Linked DNA regions of Homo sapiens. The protein of the gene in region 1 purifies or fractionates together with the protein of each later gene. This does not show direct contact. Each region holds a gene or a part of one and is shown on either strand. Other genes may lie near its edges.

Region 1 (3,654 bases):
GCTTTTTCTTCTCTTTCCTCTAGCGTCAAAGGAAAATACAGAAGGATCGCTTAGTGGCAGAGTTCACAACATCACTGACAAACTTCCAGAAGGTCCAGAGGCAGGCTGCTGAGCGAGAGAAAGAGTTTGTTGCTCGAGTAAGAGCCAGTTCCAGAGTGTCTGTAAGTATTTTAAAAGACATTCTAGAAATGAACATGGTTACTTGCTAAGGGTCCCATAAAAGTCTATAGTAGCATAATTTTTTAAGTCATAAAGATCTGTGAATATCTTGGAAATCAGCTCTTGAATATTTATTTTTATGCTTTCCTGCTCCATTTTTAGAAAAGGATGATAATTTTGTATTACGGTGGTGATTTTTTGTGTCATAGTACAGAAGATTACAGAGTATATAAAAATATAGAGACATATTTTGTCAAAAAAGATTAGGGATCAAATCCTGAGTAGTATTCTCACATCGTCTTGGTACTGAGGCTTTCTGCTTGTGTACACGCTAGTGTAGAAAGCACTTTCCTCCTGGATTACACCAAGATGACGGAGATGAATGGCGCAAGTATGTTGTATCAATATTGAAAATGAACATGAGCCTGGAGAAAATAAATGAAAGGAAGCTTTACAATAGAATTTTGAATTAATCTAATTTTAAATTCCCTTAGAAACTATCATGAGTTATTTTCTTATTCATTAACATATGGATTCCAAGACTACATTAAGCTTTAACTAAATAATACTTATTTGATCCTTGAGAATATTTAGTGAATTCCTTTCTTGTCTACTTAGAATATAAAATTACTTATAATTATATTATTACTTGAAGCAGTTGACCTGAAAAATTAGAACAAGAACTTCTTTCTCTCTGTCTCTACACACACACACACATACACACAGACACGTACATAAATCAGTTTAGTTTATTATAAGGGAAAATATGAGTGTTTATTTTTTCTCATTTTTGCTTTTTTTGCCCCTTCTCATTCCATCCTGTTACTAAATTATTCAGGGCAGTTTTCCTGAGGACAGCTCAAAAGAAAGGAATCTTGTATCCTGGGAAAGGTAAGAAATACAAAACATTTTACAGATCAAAAGGTAATTTTTCAAAGTTTATACATTAAGGTCCCTGGAACAGAATTAAAGCTTTCAATATATTATATCATAAATATCCTAAGTTGTTTATATGTTGAAAACAGAGTAAATTTGAAAAAAATTTTAAGTAATTATAAAGTATTTATTACAAAATATATAAAGTTTTCCAAATAAATGTTTATGGACTTAATTATTAATATAGACATTCCCTTATATGAGGTTTAAATCAGCTGAGAAGAAATACCCAGTTGACAGATACAGCTTCCAATAATTAAGTAATAACTCTAAACTCACATTAGCTAAAATGATATAAGTGAAATGAAAAATGAATAAATTTTATTAATATATCTGTTATATTCTTAGAATTTTTTTGAGTAGTTCTGTGACTTTGGAGAATAAAATATCCTATTTAATGAATATATCTTAAATAGGAAATGAGTCCCATTGTTTTGAATACCAATCTTTGTTTTTTTCCACATTCATTTTTTTCTGTTAGCCAAACTCAACCTCAAGTGCAGGTGCAGGATGAAGAAATTACAGAGGATGACCTCCGTCTTATTCATGAGAGAGAATCTTCTATCAGGCAACTTGAAGTAAGGCTTACATTGTAGACTTGGGCTGCTGCTCTGGTCTTAGTGAGTTTGTTCTCAAGATGCTTAGGTAATGCTGGGAGAATGCATGAGACAGAAAAATTTTGTTTTCTTTTTGAGACAGTCTCCCTCTGTCACCCAGGCTGGAGTGCGGTGGTGGAATCTCGGCTCACTGCAACCTCCGCCTCCCAGCTTCAAGCGATTCTTGTGCCTCAGCTTGCTGAGTAGCTGGGATTACAGGCACGTGTCACCCCACCTGGCTAATTTTTTGTACTTTTAGCAGAGAAAGGGTTTCACCATGTTGGCCAGGCTGTTCTCAAACTCCTGGTCTCAAGTGATCTGCCTGCCTTGGCCTCCTAAAGTACTAGGATTATAGATGTGAGCCACCATGTCTGGCCCAGAGAAAGAAAATTAATGTATCAGTTTGGTAGCATTTGTAATGTATGAGTTGGAATAATTCCTTTTTTAAAAAAATAATATTGTCCTTACTGTTTGTGCTAGGACGAGGGATCATACTCCCTCCTACTGCAGCTTTTTAAAAATTATTATTGTTATATCAAGCCATCTATGGACCACCTTAGTATTGAGAAAATACCAGTGTAGAGATAAATGTCTGTCCAAGAGTCTGGATGTCTTCCCAGAGCACATGATACACATCATACCTGCATGAGTAAGACCTTTTATAAGGCCTTCAAAGAATTTTATTTCTCTTTACTATGTTTATGACATCAAAGAGATCTAAAGGATTTATTAAGTCATAGTTCTTATGGAACCTACTTAGTTCCTAGAAAGAAGGCTAATAATAGCTAACAATGGCTACAATTTATTGAAGACCTTCCATGTGCCAGGCACTTGTGGGATGAATTCTTTATGTTAATTATCTCATTTAGTCCTTATAAAAACTTTATGAAGCAGTTAATTGTGTCATTGAAGAAAAGTAAATTTATATTTAATCACCAAGTTTATAACTTCTTTATTCAGTAGTGACATTTCACTAATCCACTGCATGTTCAAATTATTAATGTGAGACTTTAAATTTACACCTAATGTTTTATTACTTTAAATTGTCAAATTGATGTGTAAATTTTACTAGAAATACATGCTAAGAATATTTTATACCCTTGTAAGTAGATACTGCTTGTGATAACAAAACTATCAGGTTGTATAAAATGAACTCAGCAATCCATGGCTCTTCTCTATTATAGATCCTTCATTTCCATTCATTTCCATCCTGCCTCGCTCACTTGGTATTTTTAATGCCACAAACTGATTTTAGAGAACTGGTGGCTATTGTTCAAATTCTTCTTAATTATTGTCAAATATTTTCCTGATATTTCCAAAGTTTATGTATTATATTTGTGTATTATAGATGCATGCTCACCCATGTGTGAGTAGTGGTTTGGGTTTTTAAAATTTTTCCTCTTTTATGGAATGGGGACTGAATTTCTGATTATAATAATATATGCGTTTTCTCTTAGGCTGATATTATGGATATTAATGAAATATTTAAAGATTTGGGAATGATGATTCATGAACAAGGAGATGTAATAGGTAAGACCTGCTGACTTAGATTTTGGAGGTGAGAGCAAGCTACATGCACTTTACCTGCTGTAACTTTCTCACAGAAGAGTAACCACTTTCTGTCCCTTTTTTGGTTTCCCTGGAACCAAAAGCATGGTCTATAAAACACAGTAAGCATCACCCTTGGCATTATCTAAAACAGATCTCATTTTTAACTCGTGCTGGTTGAAATAACCAGCTTCATTTATTTCAGAAGCCCAAATTTAATCAGGGCCTATTGCTGCCAAGACCATGGAAGGCACCATGAAACATTATTCCAGCTTATTTCCAGGGCCTCTGGTTTTAGTCTTACTCCAATTTATTTGTCATCATGCTAAGCACTTTTGGGGAAACTTGTGGTATATGTAACTGTGCATGACATCTTGTCTTTTAGGTATTAGGGAATAGGTAGACATTTGCCTAA
Region 2 (3,654 bases), on another chromosome or scaffold:
TGATGTGCTTCAGACTCATCCATGTTTTACATAGAGCAGTTCGTTTCTTTTTATCGCTGAACAGTGTTAGTGATTGCACAGCCGCCTAGCTCACCTCCAAAGGAGAGACACGTAAAACAGCCTTTTGTGTTTGGAATGCCTTTTCCAGAAGATCCCTTGATACGAGAGCCGCATGTTTGCTATTCTTGATGCCCTGCTGGTATCGTGTGAGTGTTCCAGTCTGTCTGTCCACCCTCCTACAGAGTGACATCTGGGCTGTGTTCAGCTTGGGGCTGTCACGGAGCCTTCCTGCGCAGGTCCATCTGTGGATGCAGGCGCCTTCTCTCCTGGATGAAATACTAAGAGTGGAATTGCTGAGTCATAGGTGGTCGCATGTTTGTTTAGGAGCAGCTGCCAGACCTTCTTTGCAAATGGTTGAGCCATTTACACTTCCACCAACACTGTGTGAGAGTTCTGTTGCTGTACATCCTTGCCAACATTTGGTATTGTCATTCTCTTTAATTTTAGCCATTCTGGTAGGTGTGTAGTCATCTGTCATTTGGAGTTTTAATTTGCCTTTGTCTGGTGACTGGTGATGAGCACAGAGCTCTTTTCAGCGTGCACTGTGTTTGTGTGTGTGTGTGTGTGTGTGTGTTATGGGATTGGAGTAGGCAGTCTGTGTGTGTGTGTGTGTGTGTGTTACGGGATTGGGGGAGTACGCAGTCTGTGTGTGTGTATGTGTGTTATGGGATTGGGGGAGTAGGCAGTCTGTGTGTGTGTTACGGGATTGGGGGAGTAGGCAGTCTGCGTGTGTGTTACGGGATTGGGGGAGTAGGCAGTCTGCGTGTGTGTGTGTGTGTGTGTTATGGGATTGGGGGAGTAGGCACTCTGTGTGTGTGTGTGTGTGTGTGTTATGGGATTGGAGTAGGCAGTCTCTGTGTGTGTGTGTGTGTGTGTGTGTTATGGGATTGGAGTAGGCAGTCTGTGTGTGTGTGTGTGTGTTATGGGATTGGGGGAGTAGGCAGTCTGTGTGTGTGTTACGGGATTGGGGGAGTAGGCAGTCTGCGTGTGTGTGTGTGTGTTATGGGATTGGGGGAGTAGGCTGTGTGTGTGTGTGTGTGTGTGTTACAGGATTGGGGGAGTAGGCAGTCAGCTTGGTTGCATGTTGGAAGTTACTCATGCAGTCGCTCTTGCTTCTGACTGGCTTGAGTTCCAGAGCTGTTGGCTGCGTGGAGTTTGACCCCTTCCTTAGTAGCAGCGCTTTGAGTAGTGGGCAGAGTCTCAGGGTGTTCTGTGTGGTTGGAGCAGGCTGGTGTGCCGGGCCTCTCCCTTGGTACAGGTTGGTACAGGGAGCATAGCCCAGTCTGGAGTGAGGCTACCAGGGGACTAAGACCTTGCTTTGTCACATGAGATCTGTAGGTGAGTCCAAAGACACAAGTGTGCTGCGTGGCAGTGTCGCTGGCGTTGCTGTGGCCTCGGATGGAGGCTCTTGGGTTCCCAAAAGAGTGCCTGCTGATGAGCAGAAGGTCCCAGCAGGTTTGTGGTTAGTGATTACACAGCCACAGGGCACACTTCCTCTCACAGAGAGATCTGAAACACAGCCTTCTGTGTTGGCACTCTTCTCTCCCAGAAGAGCCCTTGTGGATAGGAGCCGCATGTTTATACTCTTTGTGCCCTGCCTGCAGCGGGGTTCCTGAACACTCGTTCCACATGTCTTGAAGAAGGCTTGTTATCAGCAGGGGCTCAGGAAGAGGACCTTCATTTGGTAATTCCACATCAGAGGTTCTTGGTGCCACACCCCTCACTGGTGCCCACCCTGCCCTGCTGGACTAATATTTACACTGCCTGATTCTCAGTGACTGACTTGTCTCTTGCCTCTTTCCTGCAGCTTGTTCTCAGAACACAAACAAAACCTGTGAAGAGTGCCTGAAGAACGTCTCCGTAAGTAGCACGTGGACTAGAGACCAGAGTGCCGTCCAGACCGTCCAAAGGCACACGGGCTTTCTCTAGGTCCAGGGATTCGCTGGGATGTGTGGAGGGCTCTGTTGTTTGGGATTTGGGGGGATGTTTTTTGGAATCGTTATCAAATGTTATTTTAGCCATTTCAGGTATATTAAACCTTCTCATGAAAACTGCAGTTACTGTCTGAGCATGGTCAGTATCCATGATTTCACTCCTATGCAGATGGGGCCAGCACTGCGTGGCCAGTCTTCCTAACGAGGCCCATAGCGAGAAATTTGGCTGTCCGCAAAGCTACACCCTCAGGTTGTGAGCCCGTGTTTTCCCAGGCTGTCGGGCTGCAGCAGAGACTGCTTTCTCAGCTGCTCACACAGGATTGGAAGGGGCACAGCAAGGAGAGAGAGGCACCAGCCCTCTGGGCCGGTGGGCCAGGCTGTCCATAGCACTCTCTGGTCGTGACCTGGGGCTCAGGTTTGGATTTTAACTACCTGTGTGACCTTCAACAAGAGGGTAGCGGTCTGGAGCAAAGTTCCCTAAGCCTCCACGGCATGAGGTGGGGCCCGAGACTCCCCGGGGTGCCTTCCCGATGGAGACTGATGCAGATGCCCACCTGGAAGAAGGAGCACCCGTGGTGGGGAAGCAGCATCACAGTGCAGGTCTTGTTAAAGACGTGTGAACAGGGCTGGGTGCAGTGGCTCACGCCTGTAATCCCAGCACTTTGGGAGGCCGAGGCAGGTGGATCACGAGGTCAGCAGTTGGAGACCAGCCTGACCAACATGGTGAAACCCCGTCTCTACTAAAAATACAAAACAATTAGCTAGGCGTGGTGGCGGGTGCCTGTAATCCCAGCTACTTGAGAGGCTGAGGCAGGAGAATTTCTTGAAACCGGAAGTCGGAGGTTGCAGTGAGCCAAGATTGTGCCACTGCACTCTAGCCTGGGCAACAAGAGCAAAAAACTGTCTTTAAAAAACAAAAACAAAAACAAAAACGTGTGAACAGGGTCCTTTGGTTTTCTCTGCGTGGTGGCCTGCGCCTGGGCCAGCCTGGCTGGCACCTCTTGGGCTTGCCTTGCCACGCAGCTCTTGGTTCGGCAGCACCCAAGTCTCCTCGCAGCGCTATGAAATCAGCACGGGAAACCTGAGGGAAGGCCCACGGCAGCGGGAAGTGGTTAGGCAGAAAACAGCATCCTGTGGGGCCTTTTTCTTAGGATTCCTGATCTCGCCCACCCCTTGCCCCTTCCAGTCAGGAGTTTACCAGGTTTTGAGAACTGCAGGGCCAGAGGCTTCCTTTCCCCGGCAATGAGGTTTCATGATATGAGGAGGCCGGGAAAGATGTATTCGATGATTTCTATTCTAAGGCATGAGCCATGTTCTTAAAAACTCTTCTTCCTCCACGAGACCGTAGCGTAGGTTTGAGGAGGCCGGGAAAGATGTATTCGATGATTTCTATTCTAAGGCATGAGCCATGTTCTTAAAAACTCTTCTTCCTCCACGAGACCGTAGCGTAGGTTCGAGACACACCCTGTCAGTTTGTGGGACTTAAGTGGATACTTGCATTTGCTGATTAAAAATTGAAAGACGCTGTTTCTGTGGTTTCAGATCTTGACATTGGTGATGTTGAACCTGCTCTAATGCGCCTGGTCCTGGTGCATTTTCTAGATGGTGCTTCTTTTTAGTCTCTGGATTTTTCTATTGGAAGTCATTTCAGCTTTAAACA
Region 3 (3,654 bases), on another chromosome or scaffold:
TATTTTTTAAATCATCGGTTAGAAGAATCTGAGCCTCTTTCCTATTGCCCCAAGGAAATCTTTAGTCACTTACCCAGAGATGCTTGCAAAGCATTAATATCCTGGAAGATGATCAATAAATGCTGACAGTTGATTGACTGATATCTGAGATATGTCAGGTAAATACCTCAGTCCTGGACAGAGAGCCCCTAAGTCACATCTGCCTTTGTGTAAGATGAAGACTGAAGTATGGAAATGTATGTAGTAAAATCACCTCTCGGAACTTGTTTGTAATTCATACAATCTATGTCAATTTTGAAAAATGTATGTAAAGCAGAGAAGGTTGTAGCCAAATTCAATGTATAGTATGCAAGAGTATATTATTTAATAATTTTTAATTGATGCAAATCCCATTAATTTTATAGTTTTATTTTTACATGATTTTAAACTGAAACTATTTATATTTCCTAAGTTCCCCTGTGTTTCTTTCTCACAATCACTGCTGAACGTAAATTTGTTGTTCACTTAATGGAATCACTGTTAAGGACACAGTCACTTGAATATGATTGCTTTTTAAAAATCAAGTCCAGGCGTGATATACTAGGATCACAGTTTCATGGCATGTTGGTCATAATCCTGAGAAAATAGTGACAAAATTATTATTTGTAGATATTAAATACCAGTTTAATAATATGTGTGGAAATCAGATTAAATAGTACATAAAGCCCACCCTAATAACAAGGGCAGGAAAAATTACTTCAAGAAAAACAATAGTAAACCTTAAATTAAAAATAATACAAATAAATAAGCTTTATGAATACATTTTTAAATTTAAAATGTATTGTCTCAATAAATTCCACTGCTGAGACTGTAATTGTATCACTTTCTCCTTATATTCTTCATTGATTATTAGTATATTAGACACCAGAACTGAATAAAATTGACTGTTTCAAGAGAACTCCTTTTTGATGTTTATTATATTATGAAGTTTGATAACTGATTGGTTAGAATAATATATAAATTACTTTTAAAATCTTTTAAAAGTTTTGTTCCTCTTTCCTATTATACTTTTTTGGTAATAGCTTTATTGAGATAAAAGTCACGTACCATACAATTCACCCACTTAAAGTGTACAATTCAGTGAGTTTTATTATATTCACAGAGTTGTGCAACAATCACCACAATCAATTTTAGGATATTTTCATTAGCCCAAAAAGAAATGCTGTGCCCTTTTGCAGTCATCTCCCATTTTCTTTATCCCCTCAGCCTCTAAGCAACTGCACTCCTATAGATTTGTCTATTCTGGACGTTTTCTGTAAATGGAATCATATAACATATAGCCTTTTGTGACTGGCTTCTTTGACTTAGCATAATGTTTTTAAGATTCCTCAACGTTATAGTGCATATCAGTGCTTCATTTTTTTTTTTTTTTTTTTTTGAGACGGAGTCTCCCTCTGTTGCCCAGGCTGGAGTCCAATGGTGCGATCTCGGCTCACTGCAACCTCCACCTCCTGGGTTCAAGTGATTTTCGTGCCTCAGCCTCCCAAGTAGCTGGGATTACAGGCGTACACCACCACGCCCAGCTAATTTTTGTATTTTTAGTAGAGATGGGGTTCCACCATGTTGGCCAGGCTAGTCTCGAACTCCTGACCTCAGGTGATTCACCCACCTCGGCCTCCCAAAGTGCTGGGAGATCTTCATTCCTTTTTATTGCTAATAATATTCCCTTATATTGATATAACACATTTGGTTTGCCCATTTATCAGTTCATAGATGTTTGGGTTTTTTTCTACTTTTGGCTATTTTAAATACTACTGCTATGAGCATTAGCATACCAGTTTTTGTTTGAGCATGTTTTTATTTCTCTTTGGTGTATACCTAAAGGTAGAATTGCTGAGTATTGTAGTAACTCTCTGTTCAGCCTTCTGAAGAACTGCCCAGCTGTTTTCCAAAGTGGTTGTACAATTTTTACATTCTCACCGGCAATGTATGATGATTCTAATTTCTCCACATCCTCACCAACACTTAATATTATCTGCCTAGTGGGTATGAAATATTATCTCATTGTGTCCTATTATTCTTTTTTGACACTGTATCCCTAGCACTTGTGTTTATTCAATTAATATATGAAAAAGCATTGGTTTTCATGTGTGTTTCTCAGTGTACAATTATAGTAAACATATCTTTAGTATCATTATCCTCTAAACCAAATAAATTATTACTATTACTATTATCATTATTATTTTGAGACAGGGTCTGGCTTTGTCACCCAGGCTGGAATGCAGTGGCACGATCAGGGTTCTGCAGCCTCCTCCTGGGCTCAAGCAATCCCCCCAAGTAGCCTTCAGAGTAGCTGGTATTACAGGCATACACCACCACGCCTAATTTTTTTTTTTTTTTTTTTTTTTTTTGTAGAGATGGGGTTTCACCGTATTGCCCAGGCTGGTTTCGAACTCCGGGGCTCAAGTGATCCTCCCTCCTCATCTTCCCAAAGTGCCAGGGTTACAGGCGTGAGCCACCATGCCCGGCCATAAACCAAATACATTATATTATAAATGTAATGCTTGTCTGTTACTTGTTAGCTAGAATATTACTCAAGAAATATTTATTTAAAAAATGACCTAATGCATTTCCTTGAATATTAATTGGTTTTGAACATTTCATGTGGTCATTGGCCATTTCTTCTATTGGGAATTATCTATTTCTATTCTTTGTTTTTCTATAATGTCTCTTTTTCTTACTAGTTTGTCAAAGCTTTTTATATAATACAGACATCAGGTCTTTTGTCTTAAAGGATACTGCAGATGTTTTTTCCCAGTCTGTTGCTTGTTTTTTAACCTTGTTTTTGATGTCTTATGTTCAAGTTTTAAATTTTTATATAATCAAATATGTTAATCTTTTTCTTTCAGACTTCTGGAGTTGTGTGTTGTTTAGGAATAACTTACCCATCTTAAGAGTTAACTATTTATATATTTTCAATCTTTGTGATTTCATAACAAAATATGTCTAAGGTCCCATTTTCCTTTAAGTACTGCTGTGGCCATACTCTTCAGATTTTGACCTGTGATCTTCCCAGTGTCTTTCATTTCAAAATAGTCTAATCACCTTTATTTACATTTAACATAAAAGTTAATGAGAAGGATGTTTTTTGTTTTTTGTGAGGTTTTTTGCTACAGGGTCTCCTTTTGTCACCCAGGTTGGAGTGCAGTGGCATGATCATAGCTCACTCTAACCTCAAATTCCTGGGCTTAAAAGATCCTCCCATATCAGCCTGCTGAATAGCTAGGACTACAGGCATGAGCCACCATGCCTGGCTAATTAAATTTTTTTTTTTTTTTTTTTTTTCCCATAGAGACACGGTCTTGCTATGTTGCCAGTGCTGGTCTTGAACTCCTGGGCTCAAGTGATCCCCCCACTTTGGCCTCCCAAAGTGCTGGGATTACAGGTGTGAGCCACTGCACCCAGCTGAGAAGAGTATTTTAAAACTTCCTTTTTCCATCGCATTATGGTCAGAGAATATGACTTGTGTAATTTCTATTTTTTGGAATTTATTAAATGTCCTTTGTGGCTTACCCATAAAGGAAAATAAAATAAAATTTGCTGTCTAGTTTCAAAGTTCTAGATTTTTTTGTGTGTTTGGCTTCTCCATCTCTGAAGGGTATGTTAAATCCTCCC

What was found.
Region 2: the proteins of STX7 (region 1) and PTTG1IP purify together in Homo sapiens (affinity purification with mass spectrometry; 4 studies listed by BioGRID and IntAct, with this or other methods). This does not show direct contact.
Region 3: the proteins of STX7 (region 1) and VAMP4 purify together in Homo sapiens (affinity purification with mass spectrometry; 5 studies listed by BioGRID and IntAct, with this or other methods). This does not show direct contact.

What each region holds. Positions count from the first base shown.
Region 1 is NC_000006.12:132,467,970-132,471,623, reverse strand, and holds part of STX7 (syntaxin-7), read left to right. Parts: intron 1-23; coding exon 24-161; intron 162-997; coding exon 998-1,050; intron 1,051-1,576; coding exon 1,577-1,673; intron 1,674-3,148; coding exon 3,149-3,221; intron 3,222-3,654. UniProt on the Homo sapiens protein: May be involved in protein trafficking from the plasma membrane to the early endosome (EE) as well as in homotypic fusion of endocytic organelles. Mediates the endocytic trafficking from early endosomes to late endosomes and lysosomes.
Region 2 is NC_000021.9:44,863,661-44,867,314, reverse strand, and holds part of PTTG1IP (pituitary tumor-transforming gene 1 protein-interacting protein isoform 1 precursor), read left to right. Parts: intron 1-1,867; coding exon 1,868-1,920; intron 1,921-1,926; exon of another isoform or gene 1,927-3,347; intron 3,348-3,445; exon of another isoform or gene 3,446-3,522; intron 3,523-3,654. UniProt on the Homo sapiens protein: May facilitate PTTG1 nuclear translocation.
Region 3 is NC_000001.11:171,732,031-171,735,684, reverse strand, and holds part of VAMP4 (vesicle-associated membrane protein 4), read left to right. Parts: intron 1-3,654. UniProt on the Homo sapiens protein: Involved in the pathway that functions to remove an inhibitor (probably synaptotagmin-4) of calcium-triggered exocytosis during the maturation of secretory granules.